Regions from separate parts of the Homo sapiens genome. Here region 2 is linked to region 1. The links come from fine-mapping of genetic effects on gene expression. Tissue or cell type: whole blood. Region 1 holds a variant in brackets; the other region holds the start of a gene. All regions are shown on one strand. Distances are from middle to middle.

What was found. PIP is the estimated chance that this variant, and not a neighbour inherited with it, causes the effect.
Region 2: it holds the start of CERS3, and the variant in region 1 is fine-mapped to the expression of CERS3 in whole blood (TOPMed, PIP above 0.99).

The regions. Positions count from the first base shown.
Region 1 is chr15:100,575,239-100,578,059 of GRCh38, reverse strand. The region is part of intron 3 of LINS1 (lines homolog 1); the gene reads left to right. Among named protein-coding and RNA genes, the nearest start is that of LINS1, 26 kb to the left of the region's middle. The variant G/A (reference allele first, on the strand shown) is at 1,302.
Region 2 is chr15:100,527,983-100,530,707 of GRCh38, reverse strand. It overlaps CERS3 (ceramide synthase 3), which reads left to right and starts at 1,758. Exons shown (of 12, transcript NM_001378789.1): 1 at 1,758-1,895.

The DNA.
Region 1 (2,821 bases):
TTTTAAGTCTAACATATAAGTCTTTAATCCATCTTGAATTAATTTTTGTATAAGGTATAAGGAAGAGATCCAGTTTCAGCTTTCTACATATGGCTAGCCAGTTTTCCCAGCACCATTTGTTAAATAGGGAATCCTTTCCCCATTTCTTGTTTTTGTCAGGGTTGTCAAAGATCAGATGGTTGTAGATGTGTGGCATTATTTCTGAGGGCTCTGTTCTGTTCCATTGGTCTGTATCTCTGTTTTGGTACGAGTACCATGTTGTTTTGGTTACTGTAGCCTTGTAGTATAGTTGGAAGTCAGGTAGCGTGATGCCTCCAGCTTTGTTCTTTTGGCTTAGGATTGACTTGGCAATGCAGGCTCTTTTTTGGTTCCATATGAACTTTAAAGTAGTTTTTTCCAATTCTGTGAAGAAAGCCATTGGTAGCTTGATGGGGATGGCATTGAATCTATAAACTACCTTGGGCAGTATGGCCATTTTCACAATATTGATTCTTCCTATCCATGAGCATGGAATGTTCTTCCATTTGTTTGTGTCCTCTTTTACTTCGTTGAGCAGTGGTTTGTAGTTCTCCTTGAAGAGGTCCTTCACATCCCTTGTAAGTTGGATTCCTAGGTATTTTATTCTCTTTGAAGCAATTGTGAATGGGAGTTCACTCATGATTTGGCTGTTTGTCTGTTATTGGTGTATAAGAATGCTTGTGATTTTTGCACATTGATTTTGTATCCTGAGACTTTGCTGAAGGTGCTTATCAGCTTAAGGAGATTTTGGGCTGAGACGATGGGGTTTTCTAGATATACAATCATGTCATCTGCAAACAGGGACAATTTGACTTCCTCTTTTCCTAGTTGAATACCCTTTGTTTCTTTCTCCTGCCTAATTGCCCTGGCCAGAATTTCCAACACTCTGTTGAATAGGAGTGGTGAAAGAGGGCATCCCTGTCTTGTGCCAGTTTTCAAAGGGAATGCTTCCAGTTTTTGCCCATTCAGTATGATATTGGCTGTGGGTTTGTCATAAATAGCTCTTATTATTTTTAGATACGTCCCATCAGTACCTAATTTATTGAGAGTTTTTTAGCATGAAGGGTTGTTGAATTTTGTCAAAGGCCTTTTCTGCATCTATTGAGATAATCATGTGGTTTTTGTCTTTGGTTCTGTTTATATGATGGATTACATTTACTGATTTGCATATGTTGAACCAGCCTTGCGTCCCAGGGATGAAGCCCACTTGATCATGGTGGATAAGCTTTTTGATGTGCTGCCGGATTTGGTTTTGCCAGTATTTTACTGAGGATTTTCTCATC[G/A]ATGTTCATCAGGGATATTGGTCTAAAATTCTCTTTTTTTGTTGTGTCTCTGCCAGGCTTTGGTATCAGGATGATGCTGTCCTCATAAAATGAGTTAGGGAGGATTCCCTCTTTTTCTGTTGATTGGAATAGTTTCAGAAGGAATGGTACCAGCTCTTCCTTGTACGTCTGGTAGAATTCGGCTGTGAATCCATCTGGTCCTGGGCTTTTTTTGGTTGGTAAGCTATTATTATTGCCTCAATTTAAGAGCCTATTATTGGTCTATTAAGAGATTCAGCTTCTTCCTGGTTTAGTCTTGGGAGGGTGTATGTGTCCAGGAATTTATCCATTTCTTCTAGATTTTCTACTTTATTTGCATAGAGGTATTTATAGTATTCTCTGATGGTAGTTTGTATTTCTATGGAATCAGTGGTGATACTCCCTTTATCATTTTTTATTGCGTCTATTTGATTCTTCTCTCTTTTCTTCTTTATTAGTCTTGCTAACGGTTTATCAATTTTGTTGGTCTTTTCAAAAAACCAGCTCCTGGATTCATTGATTTTTTGAAGGGTTTTTTGTGTCTCTATCTCCTTCAGTTCTGCTCTGATCTTAGTTATTTCTTGCCTTCTGCTAGCTTTTGAATGTGTTTGCTCTTGCTTCTCTAGTTCTTTTAATTGTGATGTTAGGGTGTCAATTTTAGATCTTTCCTGCTTTCTCTTGTGGGCATTTAGTGCTGTAAATTTCCCTCTACGTACTGCTTTAAATGTGTCCCAGAGATTCTGGTATGTTGTGTCTTTGTTCTTGTTGGTTTCAAAGAACATCTTTATTTCTGCCTTCATTTCATTATGTACCCAGTAGTCATTCAGGAGCAGGTTGTTCAGTTTCCATGTAGTTGAATGGTTTTGAGTGAGTTTCTTAATCCTGAGTTCTAGTTTGATTGCACTGTGGTCTGAGAGACAGTTTGTTGTGATTTCTGTTCTTTTACATTTGCTGAGGAGTGCTTTACTTCCAACTATGTGGTCAATTTTGGAATAGGTGTGGTGTGGTGCTGAGAAGAATGTATATTCTGTTGATTTGGGTTGGAGAGTTCTGTAGATGTCTATTAGGTCTGCTTGGTGCAGAGCTGAATTCAATTCCTGGATATCCTTGTTAACTTTCTGTCTCGTTGTTCTGTCTAATGTTGACAGTGGGGTGTTAAAGTCTCCCATTATTATTGTGTGGGAGTCTAAGTCTCTTTGTAGGTCTCTAAGGAGTTGCTTTATGAATCTGGGTGCTCTTGTATTGGGTGCATATATATTTAGGATAGTTAGCTCTTCTTGTTGAATTGATCCCTGTACCATTATGTAATGGTCTTCTTTGTCTCTTTTGATGTTTGTTGGTTTAAAGTCTGTTTTATCAGAGACTAGGATTGCAACCCCTGCCTTTTTTTGTTTTCCATTTGCTTGGTAGATCTTCCTCCATCCCTTTATTTTATTTCTGTGGCATATTCGATTTTTTTACTTAAATAATATTAGGATACTTCTGTTCCTTCTCGGTGTGCC
Region 2 (2,725 bases), 47 kb after region 1:
GAAAATGAGTGTTGGATGATCACTATTTTGGGTACTAATTGTTTGACCAGTATTGAACAGCTGAGCTCCAGGGGTAGAAAGAGATCTAAGGCTTGTCCAGTGAGGATTCCCAAAGTAGTGGGGAAGCAGATACAAAAATCAGTTAAGTTGTGATAGAGTAGTAGGTGTTGCAATAAAGGTATACCCACAGAACAGAGAGGGCCGAGGCTAGGGAAGCTTGAGCAGGATTCAGACTTTCATTAGGCACAGAGGCGAGAGAGCAGCTCATGGCAAGGGCCCAGAAGCTGCCCACTGTTGTGTCTGGAATCTAGTGGGAAAGGGCAAAAGGAAGTCCTGGAGCAGCAGGTTGCGAGCAGGCCATTGTGCCAAGGAGTCTGGTCTTGATCCTATAGGTAGAAGGTGGCTGGTAGAGTTTAATCAGCAGAAGAAAAAGAAATGAGAATGGGAATGTGAGTTAGGTGACAATTGGATGAAGATGGAAGCCTCATGTCAGGAAACCAATTCTGCAGTGGTCTCCTGGCAGAAGGTGAGGCAGACCTGAACTGAGCCTACCTCGGTTAGTGGCCAAGTCTGCTTTAAATTCATCCCTTCTGCCAGATGGTTTTAAAAATGCATGAGCCCATTACTGAAAAACAGAACGTCTTCGAAGAGAAAGGCAGACCGGGAAGCCCTGAGTGAGAAGTACCCAGTGAAAGGAAGGGCGTTTATCAATCCTCTCTCTTTGAACTAAATTCATTAGTGAAATCTGAGAAACTTTGGAGCTTTAATGAATTTGAAACTGGTGTTTCCCTTTATCTGCATCTAGTCCATTTTTAATTTGCGGTCATCTATTAGCTGATGAAAAAAGAAAAATGTCTTTCAGCAGTTGAAGACAGCTAATGAGAATCAGGCTCTCAGTGTGGGCGGTACTGCTGATGTTTGGTTTGTGAGAGATACAGGAATCAACTTGTTGAAGCTCTCTACTTGTCAGAGCACCTTTAAATAATCCAAGCCCAGAGTTGTTTCATCTTCAGGCAAGAGAAAGTGAAAATGGCTTCAAAGGTACAATATCTCAAATAAACACTATAAAATGCATCCACACTTGCCTTTGAAATTGTAGTGGTTCAAGCACACAGAGACAAGCAACAATGTTTATTTCCTGATACTAATGAGCTTGTCTGTCTTTGTCTATGATGATTGTTCTTAGAGACAAACAAATAAAAATGCGAATTATATCTGACTGTTCTAAGAAGAAAAGATTGCCAGACTATTGTATTTTTTGGCAGTTATATGCTTCAAAAAACTGATCGTTTTCTCAATTCCTAGGAAGCGGGCAGAGAAATCACATTCCTGTGGACCAATGCTCCTTAGTGGATGAGTTTTGTGGCATGGTGGTGATTTAGTTAGTAAGAAGCCCTGCCTGTTTTCTGGAGAGTACTATACTTGTCGAACCAGCTCCTAGGACAGTACAGGGTTGTGACTGGTGTTTTGGGGTTCTCTCTGCGCATAAGCCCTTTCCTTTTAATACAAACAGCAAGATCATCCTGTTCAGCAGTTGACAGATGACTGTGTGCACCAAAAGGCAACAACGATGAGGCAACTGATGCATTTGTAACTCAATGTCTCACTGAATTCCAGCTTTCTTTTCTCAAGGTGGTGAAACAGGAAGCAACATCCCATCAGGAAGAACCTGAGGGTGCCATCCAGTAGCTTCGCCTCACGTCACTGACTGCCCTCAGTCAGAAATCTTGACTCGCAACTTTGGAGGGTGGGTCTCTGAAGGAATTTCAGGTCTTACACAGAGATGAGTTGTGCTGCTCTCTGAGGAGAACGAAGCTGGTTGGAACGTTGGAAGCTGCTCTCTGACTACACTTCACAAGCAAGGGGCACCTTTTGTGGACTGACATTTCAGAAAGGTAGGCGCCATCCCATGGATGTGGTTAGTATTTGAGGACTTTCAAAACCAAGGTGGCCGTGATTCCGCGTGTGAGCTTGTGTGTGTATGTGTGCCTGGGTGCGTAACAGAGAGGGAGAGGAGATGGAGATTGGGGGAGAGGCGGACAAATGAAGAAATGTTCATTTTTGGTCTGATGTTTGGGAGAAATACAGAAAAGACAGACTTGGGGCCCTTTGCTTTGTAGAGTTTTGCTTGGAAGTGTTTAGTAGTAGAGGGTAAATTTCGAGTCCAAACTTCCACTCCTGACCTGCATTGCTCTCGGGCGAGTTTAAACTGATTCATTGAGGGTTAGGAAGAAAGGTCTGGGCAGTGAAATCACACACGGCTGAATGCTCAGCATAGCTTGGTTTATCAGGAAAGCCCTGAATCCAGGTGGAATGAAAGGGGTCAGCACAGATCTTTGCCAGGTGGCAAAGGCCATTTCAGACCATCCCAGAGTGCCTTAAGCTGAGAACAAGGTGGGACTTGCTCACCCCACAGTGGCAGGCCTTCCTAAGCTGCTTCTGTCTTGAGAGATGTAGTGCTCAATGTCATGCCAGGAGAAATTAGCTGTTCGGTTCTAAGGCTGCCAGTCTCATGCAGAAAAGTGAAACAAAATCAAACTACTTTTTCTGATCCAAGCAAATGTTTAGCAAGAATGTTCTGTTAAGCATTTTTATTTTTTTGAAACCTTTACACAAAACAAGGGAAATAAAGCTTTAGGGCTGACCAGATAATGAATTTTAATTTATTCATTAACCCACAATGTTCAAGTGCCTTCTCTACCTTAAGTGAGTGTTTGACTTTAAA